4 linked regions of the Homo sapiens genome follow. The protein of the gene in region 3 purifies or fractionates together with the protein of the main gene of each other region. This does not show direct contact. Each region holds a gene or a part of one and is shown on either strand. Other genes may lie near its edges. The genes, in order: CLINT1, SH2D4A, PTPN23 and CAD.

Evidence for each region.
Region 1: the proteins of PTPN23 (region 3) and CLINT1 purify together in Homo sapiens (affinity purification with mass spectrometry; one large-scale study listed by BioGRID and IntAct). This does not show direct contact.
Region 2: the proteins of PTPN23 (region 3) and SH2D4A purify together in Homo sapiens (co-immunoprecipitation; one large-scale study listed by IntAct). This does not show direct contact.
Region 4: the proteins of PTPN23 (region 3) and CAD purify together in Homo sapiens (affinity purification with mass spectrometry; one large-scale study listed by BioGRID and IntAct). This does not show direct contact.

The regions. Positions count from the first base shown.
Region 1 is NC_000005.10:157,806,931-157,810,985, forward strand, and holds part of CLINT1 (clathrin interactor 1), read right to left. Parts: intron 2,876-4,055; coding exon 2,698-2,875; intron 1-2,697. UniProt on the Homo sapiens protein: Binds to membranes enriched in phosphatidylinositol 4,5-bisphosphate (PtdIns(4,5)P2). May have a role in transport via clathrin-coated vesicles from the trans-Golgi network to endosomes. Stimulates clathrin assembly.
Region 2 is NC_000008.11:19,316,619-19,320,673, reverse strand, and holds part of SH2D4A (SH2 domain-containing protein 4A), read right to left. Parts: intron 1,331-4,055; 5' UTR 1,127-1,330; coding exon 946-1,126; intron 1-945. UniProt on the Homo sapiens protein: Inhibits estrogen-induced cell proliferation by competing with PLCG for binding to ESR1, blocking the effect of estrogen on PLCG and repressing estrogen-induced proliferation. May play a role in T-cell development and function.
Region 3 is NC_000003.12:47,387,055-47,391,109, reverse strand, and holds part of PTPN23 (tyrosine-protein phosphatase non-receptor type 23), read right to left. Parts: intron 1-4,055. UniProt on the Homo sapiens protein: Plays a role in sorting of endocytic ubiquitinated cargos into multivesicular bodies (MVBs) via its interaction with the ESCRT-I complex (endosomal sorting complex required for transport I), and possibly also other ESCRT complexes.
Region 4 is NC_000002.12:27,219,871-27,223,925, reverse strand, and holds part of CAD (multifunctional protein CAD), read right to left. Parts: intron 2,709-4,055; coding exon 2,579-2,708; intron 1,733-2,578; coding exon 1,590-1,732; intron 1,408-1,589; coding exon 1,266-1,407; intron 1,061-1,265; coding exon 889-1,060; intron 364-888; coding exon 178-363; intron 10-177; coding exon 1-9. UniProt on the Homo sapiens protein: Multifunctional protein that encodes the first 3 enzymatic activities of the de novo pyrimidine pathway: carbamoylphosphate synthetase (CPSase; EC 6.3.5.5), aspartate transcarbamylase (ATCase; EC 2.1.3.2) and dihydroorotase (DHOase; EC 3.5.2.3).

The sequences.
Region 1 (4,055 bases), on a different chromosome or scaffold from region 3:
ACAAGTCATTGGGTTTTTTTCTGATGTAAGTAGGAGAGAGAGAGAGAGAGAGAGAGAGAGCGAAAGAGAGAGAAAGAGAGAAATGTTACTTGAAACATGTTCCATTACCTGTATTACTTAATTTTAGAGTAGGTGGTTTAATTTATAAATATTCTGGAATATAATGTTTAAAATTCTCCTTTAAACTGCTGATGCAATTTACCTCAGACTGAACTATAGCAACTTGTACTTAAATATAAACCAATCTGGAACTTGTATAAATCAAAGATCAAAAAGAATGACTTCCCACACAGAGCAAAGGGGTTAAATATATTTTTATATATAAACATTTTAAGGAACCTACAAGTTCTGATACGCATTCAAAAGCCCTTACTAACTTCTCAACAACAAATGACCTGAAGATTCCCATTAGTCCTACAAGTAAAACTGAAATTTCTTACTTTTTTGGTGTCCAATTTTATTTCAGCGCAAAATAATTTATTCACAAGTTGAAAATATAAATCTGACTAGCACACGATGAAATGGAAGCTCCATATCTGATCAATGTTCAAGAATTCCTGAATGTAATAGTGAACTAATAAGTATGAAATTCAGGTAACATGCCATCAGGATTGAGGTCATATGCAACTCTGTCAAAAAATCTACTCTTCTCTCACAAATACTTTAAGATAAAAAGTTCCTGGTGTGCCCTATCATTATCACGATAAATCATGTTCACTGCATTTTCACTCTTTTAAACCTAAATACTCCTTAAAGATTTAGAAACTCTAGGAGATCCTGTCTTAGAGGCAACATAAAAAATAAAAATCATGGGAGAAACAGAAATAAAAGAAGAGTAGAGAGACAAAGAAAAGAAAAACTAAGGATAGAAGGGCAAAGGAGAGAAAGTAACAATACAGAACACACACAGATATCTAACCAGCCTACATAGCGTTATTGTTTATAAGTAAAACCTAAGACCCAACCAGACTGTGTGGATCTGCCTAAAGTAACACAGTTAGTGGTGGAACTGAGCCTGCCCTGAAATGTCTCTTTTTCAAGACTGTTTGAAAAACTGGAATGTGATCTTTGAAGAGCTAGAACTTATTTTTAGCACTTTGAATAAATCTATTTTACAAGTATATATCTAGCTTTTTTATACTGAAAAAGGATGCATATGATAATTATAAATACTAAACATTGGGAGGGAAATGGTGCCCACTTCAAATATACAGAGCTGTTTCCCTCATTAATGTTTTTGTGGCCTGTGTAAGTTTTGGCTTGGTTTGGAAAACATTATTGAAATTATGGCCATTATTCTGTTGGTATTTCCTGAACAGGCATTCCAGGGATTTAAAAGATATGAAAACATCCTAAAAATACACTAATTAGATTGTATTTTTGTTTGGACCTCTTTTTAATGATCCCTAATTCTGAACTATTAGGATTTTTGGCGCAGGGTAAAGAAAAAGAGATGGCATTTAGTTACGAGAACTCACTTGAAGGCTTGGTTCCATCACTAACTGTGTTATTTAGGCAAGTCCACACAGTGTGACTGGGTTTTAGGTTTTACTTATAAACAACAAAGACAAAATTCTTATTCTACTCTAGTAGAGATATTGTGAGGCACAAATGATAAAGGTCAAATTTAAAAAGTAAAATTTGCTCTGTAAATTAAGTGCTATATGCATTACCCTTTACATTCTCAGAAAAATTGGTTTATAATAATATTGGTAAGTAAGAACAAAAGTGACTGCTGCAAAGCTCAAAGTATTGTTCCATGTAAAACTAAATACCATCAGAAAATGTAGTTTATAAAAATACAGCTCTATTCTCAAAAACTGGTTCAAAATCCATTTGGATTGTTTTTCTGGTACACACTGGCACAGAATCATAATGAAATGTCAAGGAAGCATTAAATTTCAAATCCTTTGACTTATGTTTAATTAAACTTAATATATAAACTTCATTATCCCTCAGTATCTTAGGTCCCTGGATCATCTAAGGTCCAAATGCAAAATAATCTATACAAGTTTTTACTGGGGAAAAAAATCCAAGGAAAGACTACTAGCTTGAATAAAAATACACAGGATCAACTTCAAAAATAAGTAGACAGAGGCAACATGGAAAGTATGTCAATACTAATTGCAAGTAGTGTATAACCTAGTATCTTAAAAATAGTTGCACAGTGCTTGCTTCAGCAGCATATGTACTAAAACCAGAACAATACAGGGAAGATTAGCATGCCCCCTGTGCAAGGATAACTTGCACATTTAAGACTTGTTCCACATTTCTGCACAGGGCATATTTATGGCAGTGAAACTATTCTATACAATACAGTAATGAGGAATATTATGCATTTGTCGAAACCCATAGAAGTGTACAATATAGGAAACCCCAACGTAAACTACAGACTTTAGTTAATAAGTGTATCCATACTGGCTTTTCAATTGTTAACAAATGCACCATAGTAATGCAAGATGTTCACAGAACCTGTTATGAAGGGGAAGTGGGTATATGACAACTCTGTACTTTATGCACAATTTTTCTGTGAGCTTAAATTGCTCTAAAAACAAATGAAGTCTATTAAAAAAAAAAAAAAAGGCCCAATTTCAGATAATGTTAATACCCCAAACAAAACCAACAAAAAACCAAAAACCCAGTGGCATAAATTTAGGGCTCTTTCTAAGAGACCCGGGAGACAAAGTGGTAAAATACCTGCATCTTTCTGGAGAGTCTTCTCTATCTTTCCTCCGGAACTTGCTGATGGTGTCATCAATTGTGCTTCCAATTTTATCACTCAGCTCACCTAATTTATCACTGAATGGAAAAGCACTCTTGTTTTTATCCCACTCCTCATCCCATTTTGATTTGGGCTCAGGATCATATCTTTCACCTAGATAGAGCATTAAAAAAAGAAGCAATTCTAACGACATTAAATTCAAAAGGTATCTACAAGTCCTTATTTCTCAGGCTTTTCCTCATAATAAAATCATTTTCAAAGGAAAACAGAAAGCTCCCACAGTGCTGAATCAACACAATTACAGCAAGGCATAGCATGTAATGCCAGTCATTAAGTGGCAGGAATGCAGATTCAAAAGCTTTTGTTTATGAATACTTACACAACCTTAATGCACAGCACAGCATATCAGGAAATTCTTAAAGGCTACTGAAAGGAGTAGTGGAAAACACAAAACCAACACAAGCTATATAAGCAAAAGAGAAATGAAAATCTTTCTGTTTTCACAAAAGACACTTAATATGTTATATTTTATTCCTGTCCCTTAATGGTTTCCCAATTTTCAGAAAAGCATTGGATAGCAACAGTATCTTAAAAAATACAACTGAAGGAACTCCAATCTGAATGCTACATGTCCCAATAAGCTAAAAAGTCTCAATAACTGTCACGCCTCAGTATCAAACTAAAAAAATAATTCAATGAATTTTCAGGGGATGGGAAAGCATTCCGTAATTACTGTACAAAGAAAGGATTACTCTAACTACCAAAAACTACACATACTAGAATCAGGAAGTATGCTCAAACAGTAGTTCAGAACAGTGTCAACCAATTCAAACACCCATTCCAAACATATGCTGAGACTGGCGAAACCTAGAGCCTCTGTGTGAATTTGGGAATGCAGAGAATAGATCGTGGCAGTAAACAAAAAACCCAAAATGTCAAGATTTGTTTTAGTCCTTGCCCCTAGGGACCCAAAGGAGACATAGGAATTACAGACACAAAATGAAACCCTTCCATTTCCATGTCCAAATCCAACTTAAGAAGCAACAGTAGAAGGTACAGAGAGCACGTGAGGTATTTTTAAAAAAGAAAACATTAAAAATTAAGGCAGGTTGGAAGAAAATGAAAAGGACAATGAGAAACAACAAAATAACTAAAAAGTGGCTAATGGAGCTTTTGTTTTGAACTTTTGTTTACAGGATCTAAAAGGATACATAGCCTTTGGAGATTGAACAAAACGATTTTGCTGAATTGCCTCCTAAAATTGCAAGGCTAAAATTTTCTGTTACATGTTTAAGGATTTTAACATATTTACTGAATCTGGAAATGACCATCA
Region 2 (4,055 bases), on a different chromosome or scaffold from region 3:
TGTCTGTATGTGTATATGCTTTAAGTCTTTTTTTTTTTTTTTTTTTTTTTGACACACAGTCTCACTCTGTCACCCAGGGTGGAGTGCAGAGGTGTGATTTCAGTTCAGTGTGGCCTCGATCTCCTGAGCTCAAGCAATTACACCACCTCAGCCTCCCAAGTAGTTGGGACTATAGGCATGTACCACCATGCCCAGCTAATTTTTTATTTTTCCTAAAGAAAAGGTCTCACTATATTTCCAGGCTGGTCAGAACTCCTGGACTCAAGTGATCCTCCTACCTCGGCCACCCAAAGTGCTGCAATGACAGGCATGAGCCACTGCACCTTGTCTGCTTTAAGTCTTAATGTACAAAGATTTCCTCCCCCATGGTCTCAAAAGAACCCTCTCAAACTACCAGAGATTCCTTTGATAACGAGGAAAAGTTTACATCTGAGAAACTCATTCACACTAAAAAAAGATAGTATTATGATTTTTTTCCTTATAGCAATTCCTTACATTTTAACAGGAGGTGTTCCCTAAAAAGATACCTCAAAGAAAAATCTCTGAGGTCTAAGAAATGCAAACACAATTGCTATAAATATACTGACACAAGAACTTTGTGTTCTAGTAGTAGCATATTAGGAACCAGTAACAATAAAGGAGATAGAAACCTTTCTTAATACCCCTCAAATCAAACCTCATAGGTGACTTTTTAATACAGCTTCAGGTTAGTCTGGTTTCAAGTAAAAGATTTCCTCATAGCTATGCAACTCCATGGTGAATGCTGTGTGTGTGTGTGTAGACTTCAGGTGGACATACTGCACTATTAGATTCTCAATAACATTTAGGATTCATCTGCCAAACTGGAACTTGCACCTGCTTTGCTTGTGACTAGTGTGAAATTGTCAAAGCAAGCCAGGAGCTGTTCTACCAACACATCCACAGAAGAAACGTGGATAAGTTTACCTTTCTTTGGTCTGGGTTTCACTGGCAGGGACTCCTTTCTTTCCATAGCTGCTTCTCTTTCTTTCCATCGTCGGATCTGTTCCTCTCTCATCTTGAAGAACAGGATCTGTTTCTGTTCTTCGCTGAGCTCTGCCAGTAGATCAGGATCTATGTACATCTCCGACAGTATCTGTTTCAGCATCTTTGCACTTCTGAAGTCTTTTATACTTGTGGCAAAAGTTCCTGAAACTGGCCTCCAGGTGTCCCTCCACCTGTGCTGGCACTTGGGCGTTTCCACGAAACTTCCCAAACAGCTCACAATCCTGGCTGACTGGGACAATAATTCAGCAAACTGGCTACTCAGACCTGGCACCAAATGTCCTGTCCAAAATGCTGTTCACTGAACCTGCAGAGAGAAAGAGCCCACATTCAGGCAGCGTGTTAAAATGTGTGGACACTGGCTAGGACGGGTTTAAAAAAAAAAGCTAGGAGGAAACACAGTATCACTTTTCAGTTCAGAGAGAAAAGAGAAGAAGAAAATCTGAGGCACACTTTGTTAAGAGTTTGTATAACCTCTATCCTGTAATTTCTAAAGATACTCTGTCAAAAAAAAAAAGAAAACAAACCCTAACTTTATACAGGTCAATCTCAGGCAAACAAAAAAAGTTCACAGAGGTTTGTCCAGCTCCCAACTAAGCAAACACATTATTACCCCAGAGCCTAACAAACCACCAACTGTGTGGCTGAAAAAAGAAAGAAAAAAAAAAGTCACAGGAAGAAATTAAAAGGCTCTCTGCAAAGTACCTATTTCAAAAGAAAATACCACTTTTGATATGTCACAGAGTAACTCATCCCAAACCAAACCAAAATAGAGCCATGCTCAAGGAAGAAAAAGGAAGAAATAAAAACTAGACCACCATGCATTTTCTGCAATTTCCCTAAAAAGTAGCATTAAATAAACAAAATTATGTACTTTCCTCTTCACAAAAGGATAATGTAATTTCCAGATAACCTACTAGAGCCATGAAAATCAGGGCAGGTGCAAGAGAGAACATCCATCTACATTCTGGAAGGTCACCGAGTTTTAGGTGTGCTTTTTCCAGATAACCTAGTTTAATAAAATCTAAATGGACAGACCAGATAAACTAGGGGGATGAAGAGGTCATTAGGTTCATAACAAAGGATCCTTCATTTATATGACTTTACCGCATGGCTCCTTGAAAGAGAAACCATAAAGCGAGAGTGCACAGTGGCCTCCTAGAAGTTCTCCTGTGGTTGGAAATCCTACTGAGGTTTCATTCTACTTTCCACATTTCTATTTTAAAATATTGGCTTAAAAATATTACCACACTGTCATACTTTCTCTCTCTATTTTTAAACAATTTCTAAGTCCCATAAACCATCATACTTTTGTAATCAGCAGGAAACTATGTAAATATATCTATTCTGGAAAACAAAAGACTTTGGATTCGATGTAATAAGATATAAGAAAAAAAACTTACTACAACTTTTCAGAATCACATGTGTCCTAAGAAATTGACCAATAGGCCAGGCGGGGTGGCTCACGCCTGTAATCCCAGCACTTTGGGAGGCCAAAGAGGGGGGATCACGAGGTCAGGAGTTCGAGACCAGTCTGACCAGTATGACCAACATCTCTACTAAAAAAACAAAAAATACAGAAATTAGCTGGGCATGGTGGTGGGTGCCTGTAATCCCAGCTACTCAAGAGGCTGAGACAGGAGATCGCTTGAACCTAGGACGCAGAGGTTGCAGTGAGCCGAGATCGCGCCACTACACTCCAGCCTGGGCAACAGAGGGAGACTCTGTCTCAAAAATAAAAAAAGAAAAAAAAAAGAAATTGACCAATAATTTGTTATTTATAATAACACCTCAATAATCTTACCACCTTGCCATGTGCTCTCAAATACGTTGTTTCTCCATACTATGTTCAAACAGTCTTAAACTTCAGACAAGTCACTTAGCTATATTATGACCATCGTAGTGTTGTTGGTTTCTCTTCGTTCACCTTGTCATTGATACAGTTAGATTTGTAATGCCCCTCTCACCATCTGGGGGCCTCCTTCAGCTTCCCGTCTTCCTCCTCTTCCGTGCAAAGTAGTTCCTTGATTTACACCTGTCTTTTGAGACAAGCACGCTCAACAGCTAGGCTACCACAGAGTGGTGTGCATACTCAGCTCTTAGATTCGCTGACTGTTCATTGTGAAGCCAGGCCCTTGATGAAACTACACCTATCCCTACTGACTGCAACCTATCATCTCGGCAGCATTCAACTACCAGAATCCAAATGGAACCAAACATTAAGAGAAAAATTTTAAAGGACTAAAAGTAATATCACGCCCTTCCCAGATCCACTTGCCAACTTTGTATTTTGCATTGAGATACCCTTAAAGGCTTGAACAGCCAAAAAAAAAAAAAAAAAAAAAAATGGATGTCTTGTCAAGATTTCTTGACTTTTGACTTTTTGTTTCTAGCAGCTTCTCAAAGGGTGGAGCCAATGAAATCCACAAGCTCCAAGATAAAGTGGTAAGAAAGGAGACAGAATGACTCCTTGACATTCCAGTAAATGTCCTTAAGTTCAATGGTTGGTTTTCGCAGAAATCACACACGGCAGAAGATGAACAGTTCAGCTGGGGTTGAGACTTCTGCTGTGTTCCCCATTTTGAATGCAGCGAATCCTATTCAAGGCATGGGTAGATCCTAGAATCTAAAACCCTTAAAGTGTCAAAGTCATATTCCTCCAGTCTCCCCCGCCCTGCATATTCCTGATAACACAGCTAACACTTCTTGTACCAGGCACCATCTTAATTAAGCACTCTACATGTGTTAACTCACTTAATCTTCACAATAACCCTTGGAGTCCAGCCCATCACTATGCCCATCTCACAGATTAGGAAGATAGAGCACAGGTCAGCAGCTGGTAAGCGGCAGAGCCGGGCAGTCCAGCTCTAACTCAGCTTCACTGTAATACACAACACAGAGGCCTTTTTGTGAGTTTATTTGTGTGCCCAGAATCAGAACAGCAGGATGTGGTGCCATGTATGAAATTTCAGAATGGAAGCCAGCAAATTCCTGCAGCAACAGAAACGCTGAACTGATGGTGCTTGACACAG
Region 3 (4,055 bases):
ACATACCACCATACTCAGCTAATTTTCTGTAGAGGTAGTGTCTTGCTATATTGCCCAGGCTGGTCTGGAACTTCTAGCCTCAAGCAATCCTTCTGCCTCAGACTCCCAAAGTGTTGGGATTACAGACATGAGCCATCACGCCCAAACTTTTTTTTATTTTATAGAGATGGGAGTCTCACTATGTTGCCCAGTCTGGTCTTAAACTCCTGGGCTCAAGCAGTTGACCCACATCAGCCTCCCAGAGCATTTCTATTTTTTAAAAATATGGTTCTTACAAACAACTCTGAAAAACAGGCACAGAAAATGAATCCCTGGCCACACAGTGAGTCAGTGGAGCAGCCAGGATATTTATGTTATTATTATTATTTGCAGCCTGTTAGAAGCAAAAGGATGTTTTTAAAACCCTAACAAAATCCTCTGTGACTGCTGATCACTCCTCCACTAAAAAAGAAGAAAGAGGCTGGGTGAAGTTCCTGGAGTAAGGGACAGAGACCTTGTCCCCATTTCGCTATGGTCTGGGACTCTGCAGAACTCGGAACAGTCTAGCGGGAAGTATGAAGCTCCAATGGAGGCTGAGAAGGCAGGCCCAGCAGCAGACGAGGAGAAAGAACCAGAGGCCCTGACAGGACCCCAGTACCTACACAACTAACAGGAAGAAGACCAGAGAACCTCCAAAAACAGCCAGGCTTTGAAGTAGCTGGGGATCCTTTTCTGAAGGAATAAAAGAAGACCCGTGGAGAGCTCTCAGTGAGGGCACGTCCAGGGATCACAGCCACCGAGGGGAAAAAGAAAAGAAAGGAGTTACCAGATTACAAGTGGGAAACAGTGCCCCTGAGTTGCTGTGAAATCTGGGCTTGGTTTTTGTTTTTTGTTTTTTTAAATTGTCTTGCTCTGTCAGGCAGGCTGGAGTGCAGTGGTACTATCATAGCTCAATGAAGCTTCAAACTCCAAGTGATCCTCCCACCTCAGCCTCTTGTGTGGCTAGGACTACAGCTGTGTGCCACCATGCCCAGCTATTTTTTTTTTTTTTTTTTTTTGAGACGGAGTCTCGCTCTGTTACCCAGGCTGGAGTGCAATGGCGCCATCTCGGCTTACTGCAACCTCCACCTCCTGGGTTCAAGCAATTCTCCTGCCTAAGCCTCCCAAGTAGCTGGGACTACAGGTGCATGCAGCCATACCCAGCTAATTTTTGTATTTTTAGTAGAGATGGGGTTTTGCCATGTTGGCTAGGCTGATCTCGAACTCCTTTTTTTTTTTTTTTTTTTTTTTGAGACGGAGTCTCGCTCTGTTACCCAGGCTGGAGTGCAGTGGTGCCATCTCAGCTCACTGCAAGCTCCACCCCCCCGGGTTCACGCCATTCTCCTGCCTCAGCCTCCTGAGCAGCTGGGACTACAGGCACCCGCCACCACGCCTGGCTAATTGTTTGTATTTTTAGTGGAGACGGGGATTCACCGTGTTAGCCAGGATGGTCTTGATCTCCTGATCTCGTGATCCACCCGCCTCGGCCTCCCAAAGTGCGGGGATTACAGGCGTGAGCCACTGCGCCAGGCCCTGGTCCCGAACCCTTGACTTCGTGATCCACCCGCCTTGGCCTCCCAAAGTGCTGGGATTACAGGCGTGAGCTACCATGCCTGGCCCCAGCTAATTTTTATTTTTATTTTGTAGAGACAGGGGTCTTGCTATGGTGCCCAGGCTGGTCTCGAACTCCTGGCCTCCAGCTATCCTCCCACCTCGGCATCCCAAAGCGCTGGGATTACAGGCATGAGTCACCATGCCCAGCCTAGGCTTGGCTTTTTTCATGTGTAAAATGGGGTTAATATCACTTGCTACGTCTAGCTCAGAGCTGTCATAAGGATTCGAGTTATTTCCCAAACAGGGAAGGAAGATGCTCAGGTGAAAATATTGTTTACAATAGGCCAAGACCTGTACTAAGAACTTAACAAGCATTAGAACGACAAACTCTGCATGTTCTCACTTTTTTGTGGGAGCTAAAAATTAAAACCACTGAATTCATGGAAACCGACAGTAGAATGATGAATACCAGAGGCTGGGAAGGGTAGTGGGAGTGGGGTGGGGGAGTGGAGTGGGAATGGTTAATGAGTACAAAAATATAGTTAGATAGAATGAATACAATCTAGTATTTGAGGCTGGGCGTGGTGGCTCACACCTGCAATCGCAGCACTTTGGGAGGCCAAGGCGGGTGGATCATCTGAGGTCAGGAGTTCGAGACCACCCTGTCCAACATGGCAAAACCCAGACTCTACTAAAAAGACAAAAATTAGCTGGACATGATGGCAGGTGCCTGTAATCCCAGCTACTCGGGAGGCTGAGGCAGTAGAAACGCTTGAACACGGGAGGCGGAGGTTGTGGTGAGCCGAGATTGTGCCACTGTACTCTAGCCTGCGTGACAAGGCGAAACTCTGTCTCAAAAAAAAAAAAAAAAAAGATCTAGTAGTGACAGCAAAACAGGGTAACTATAGTCAGCAATAATTTATTACATTTAAAAATAAAAGTATAATTGGATTGTCTGTAACACAAAGAAAGGATAAATGCTTGTGGTAATGGATACTCCATTTACCCTGATGTGATTACTATACCTGTTTGGCCATATCAAGTACCCCATTAATTTTTGTGGGTACATAGTAGGTGTATATACTTATATACCTACTTAAGCCCAGGTGTTTGAGACCAGCCTGCGCAACACAGTGAGACCTTATCTCTAAAAAAAAATAAGCAAAATTAGCAGAGTGGTGCGTGCCTGTGGTCCCAGCTATTCAGGAGGATGAGGTGGACGGACCACTTGAGACCTGGAGGCAGAGGCTGCAGTGTGCCAAGATCGTGCCTTTGCACTCCAGCCTGGGTGTTACAGCAAGACCCCATCTCTAAAAAAATAAAAATAAAAAAGAACTTAGAAGCATTAATTTTGATTCTCAGAAGCTTATGAGGTATATTATTAGTTCCATGTTTCAGGTAAGAAAAGTGAGGACTACATTAGTTATGTAATCTTTGTGACAGCTCAAGATCATTCAGCTATTAAAGGAATGAGAGGGGACCTAAACCAAGGTCTGATTCCAATAGCTATGCTATTTCCATGATGCTACTCTGCTATTTTACTGAGCACCAAACAGTAGAGAATTTTGTAGCTAGGTGAGATCACTGGAAACAACCATCCTGGTCCTGCCATGATTTTGCAGATTAGAGAAAGGGCAAACCACAGATAAGCAATGATAGTGCTAGGACCCCAAGACAGATTTCCTGACTCCAGACCTAATATTAATCCCTCTGTGTCACCTTCTCTTGTACTAGTATGTTCTCATTCTTCTATGTATGCTTTGCTCTTAATTTAACATTTGGAATTTCATCATGCTAATTAAAGCAATAAGACAAGAAGAAAAGGCAATTAAAAGGCATCACATGTGTTAGTTTTACCTTTATTCACCAGTTACATTATGTTTCTTTTTTCTCCAGTTCCAGAGTTGACTCAAATGTAGGGCATTCCTTGGGCTACTCTAAGAAACAAACTTTTTTTTTTTTTTTTTGAGACAGGGTCTCTGACACCCAGGCTGGAGTGGCGAGATCTTGGTTCACCACAGCCTCGACCTCCTGGGCTTAAGCCATACCCCCCACCTCAGCCTCCTGAGTAGCAGGGACTACAGGTGTGTGCCACCACACCACGCCTGACCTTTCTTTTTTTTTTTTTTTTTTTGTAGAGACAGGGTCTTGCTTTGTTGCCCAGGTTAGTCTCAAACTCCTGGTCTTGACTGATCCTCCTGCCTTGGCCTCCCAAAGTGCTGGGATGACAGGCATGAGCCAACGTGCCTGACCAGTATTGTTAATTAATACAGTATATGTTCAGCTACTAAATTTCAAATGAGACTAATTATATTCAGAGAATGGCGTATTGCCAAGTGAAATCTTCAGCTCCTTGGTCCATGTCAGCAAGCCTGAAAGAAAACCGCCATAGGCCAAGAGTACTGGGGATAAAAACATACCTTCATCCTCCCCTTGTCTAATCCCTACAATAATACTCAAGGCCTCGTTCCCACATCTTTTCT
Region 4 (4,055 bases), on a different chromosome or scaffold from region 3:
AACTGGACACTATTGAAGAGATTGCATCATGAAAACCATCATGGTCCCTGGCATGACACTGGCAGCCTCGAGGTGGGTAGTGGGACAGGGGACTCGGATCCACTGCCGTGCTTTACTTTTCCATCATCAAGGCCCACAGGGCTTCAAATTTTCACAGACCCAGTCAACCAGGCTCACCTGAAGAAAGGCAAGCTGTTGTGCACAATGCCTTCATTGGAACCATCATTGGCGTTGGTGAAGAGAGGAGCCCAGTCTGCTGGCAGTGAGTCTGTCTCCACAGCAAACCCATGGTTCTGGGATGTCAGAAAGCAGCGCCCAGAGCCCACCAACAAGCAGGGCTGGTTATGGCCTCGGTTCCCATATCTGGAGGTAGAAGCATGCCGAGTCACAGGCCCTGCTCACCCTCTCTTCACTACTGAACCTACCCCAGCTCTCACCGATCTCCTGTTCTCAGTAGCCTCACTCCTGTTTCCTTTTTGTTTTTTTTTTTTTTTTGAGACGGAGTCTCCCTCTGTTTCCCGGGCTGGAGGGCAATGGCACGATCTCCGCTCACTGCAACCTCCACCTCCCAGGTTCAAGCGATTCTCCTGCCTCAGCCTCTGGAGTAGCTGGGATTACAGGCGCACGCCACCATGGCTGGCCAACTTTTGTATTTTTAGTAGAGACAGAGTTTCACCATGTTGGCCAGGCTGGTCTCGAACTCCTGACCTCCAGTGATCCGCCCACCTTGGCCTCCCAAAGTGCTGGGATTACAGGTGGGAGCCACCTCACCTGCAACCCCCCCGCTCCTATTTCAACACGAATAAACACCAACTCTCTTCTCATTCCTGAGACACCCCACCCCTCATGCCACAAGTATGGGCCCCTTCTGCTCCCCACAAGTCCCACCTCATCTTGTAAGTCTTGGCCCCAATGGCTAAGGCCAATAGCTGGTGTCCCAGGCAGATCCCAAAGACAGGTCGGGGATTAGGCTCAGATAAAACACGGCTCAGTGTGGATACGACACTGGGATAGGAGGCAGGGTCACCAGGCCCATTACTTAAGAAGAGACCCTCATACTCTGGAGTGGGCAGAAAAGATGACATCAAAATCAGTATTTCAATTACAGGAGACACACCTGCAGCCCCCCCAGCCCATGAGAGTGTTAAGTCCCAATGTCTATCTTCTTCACTGCAACTCCTACTGACTTTTAGCAATTGGACCAAGGGATAGATCTTCCACCCAAGCTGCTTGTCTGAGGCCCTGAACAGGCCCCAGCTACTCACCTTGGCTGTCTAGTGCATGGTCCCAGGGTACCACAGTGACCTCAGCCCCACGCTGGCAGAGGCATCGGATCTGATTATACTTGAGGCCACAGTCCAAAGCAAGGATCCGAGGGGCACCCCCTGTATTGAATACCCGTGGAGTCTGAGAAATAGACGAATAAAGGGCAACAGTTGGCAGCTGTGCTCAGTGGGTATAAGATATGCCTGCACCAACTCCTACCTTCAAAGCCTCCTTTGATTCTCTCCTGTGTTCACCCCCCAATTGTGGGCAGAATATAACTACTGTGCTAGAGCTTGCAACACTCTCCCACTCTACCTCTGTACCTTAATGGAGACCTCTGGTACCAGGGGGCGGGCATTGGGGTCCAAGAATGGCAGGGATGAAGGTTCTGTTCCATTCTGGACCAGCTTCCCCAGCAGAGACCCCTGTTCCCGCAACTTCTTGGTCAGCTCCCGAGTGTCTACTCCTGTCAAAATAGCACAGTCTTAGGGATCACATTCCTACAACTCAGTCATCTGTGAGGTTAGACTTCCAGAAGCACTTCCATTCCAGAGCCCCAGTCACACACAGCTGTTCTATGTGCATCAAAATCCTGGGCCATTGTGACAGAAGTATACTACCATGAAGTATTCCTGCCAAAAATATCACATCTGAATTGAACAACTCTAAATCTATCCATTTATAGAAAATAATATAAAGGGAAAAAAAGAATACGCTAAGTAACACTACAGGAGTGTAACCAAGTAAGTGCAGACTATGGGATACTAGATACAGGAAAAATGACCTGTTTTCAAATAGGTTACAAGGTCCACAGATTAAGAGACTTATCAACCAAATGCAATGTGTGAACCCTGTTTAGAGCAAGATTCAAATGAACAGAAAAAAAAAAAAAAAAAAAAAAAAAAATTGGGAAATTTTAAACATTGCCTGGACACTTGTATTAGGGAATTATTAATTTTTTTAGTGTATGACGTTATTATGATCATGTTTTTTAAAGATTCCTTTTGCATAGATATTGAACTATTTGTAGATGAAATGATATGATGTCTGAGATTTGCATCAAAATAATCCAGTGGTGGTGATGAAATAAGATTAGCCCTAAGCTGATGATTATGGAAGGTGGGAGTTCCTTCCTGTGTTGGAAATTTTCTTTCTGAGTGATAGTTCAATTCTTTCTCCCAGCCCAACTCCAATCTAAACCTTCCAACTATCACAATCTTAGAGTCAGGTCCCAGCAGATTACAGAAACCTTGATTCTTTCCATCCAGGCATGCTGTGCTCTGCCCAAATATGCCCCTGCTTGCCACCATACCTTGCAAGCCAGGGATGCCATGCTGCTGCAGCCACTCATGCAGGGTGCGGGTGGCACTCCAGTGGCTGGGAGTAGGACAGCACTCTCCCACTACCAGTGCTGCTACGTGGATGCCCGAGGATTCAAACCACTGTAGATGGAAAGAGATTGTGAGAAGCCTCAGGCCAAGTTATTTCTTTGCAGCATTTTCCCGATTGTGTGGCCACAGACCCTATATTCAGCCACATTGAATGGCCTTCAATATACCAAACTTTTGGTGCTTTTGCATAGGTATTTCCATTTACCAACAACGCTCTCTCCTATACGAAACACAACCCACAGGCCCAGGGTGCCCCGATGATCACTGAAAATGACATTTTCCTTTTTATTTATTTATTATTTATTTTTTTTGAGACAGAGTCTCACTCTGTCACCCAGGCTGCAATGCAGTGGCGACATCTAAGCTCACTGCAACCTCTGCCTCCCGGATTCAAGCAATTCTCTTGCTTTAGCCTCCCGAGTAGCTGGGACTACAGGCGCCCGCCACCACACCCGGCTAATTTTTTGTATTTTTAGTAGAGACGGGGTTTCACCATGTTAGCCAGGATGGTCTCAGATCTCCTGACCTTGTGATCTGCCCACCTCAGCCTCCCAAAGTGCTGGGATTACAGGAGTGAGCCATCGCACCTAGCCATTCCTTTTTTTTTTTTTTGAGACAGGGTCTTGCTGTTATCCAGGCTGGAGTGCAGAGTACAGTGGCACAAATACACGGTTCACTACAGCCTCAATCTCCTGGGCTCAAGTGATTCTCCCACCTCAGACTCCTGAGTAGTTGGGACCACAGGTGTGGATCATCACACCTGGCTAATTTTTTGAATTTTTTGTAGTGACAGCGTCTCACCATGTTGCCAGGCTGCTCTCAAACTTCCTGGGCTCAAGCGATCCCCCCACCTCAGCCTTCCAAAGTGCTGGGATTACAAGTCATGAGCTACCGCGCCCCGCCTCTTTCTTCCTTTATCTAAAACTGAAATCACAAATCCTTTCTCTGTGAAGCCCCTCCCACTCACCCAATACAGCTTGTGCCTCCATCTTAGAGCTGTTTTAATACTTTATTTCCTCTCTTGCTATTTACGTCATATGATGAATATGTATTTGTGTCTTTGTCACGAAACAGAGAACTCAAGAGCAAGGCACATGGTGTCAGTCAGACATTTATTGAGGTGCAGGCATTGCAAAAGATGCTGAGAAAAGAGCAATGAGCAAAAAAAGATGAGGTTCCTGTCTTCATGATGTTTATTTCTGACTTAGGGAGCTAGAAAACAAGGTAACACCCATATAAATATTAATTATAGAGTGTGATTAAAAACTGAGTAAGATAGGGAGGTACAAAATACCCCATTACCAAATAAAAAACAAAGGTTCAGGGCACAATACTAAGCATGCCTCCCAAACTTCATTTGGGATTATTTAAAAAAGAAAAGGCCAGGCGCGGTGGCTC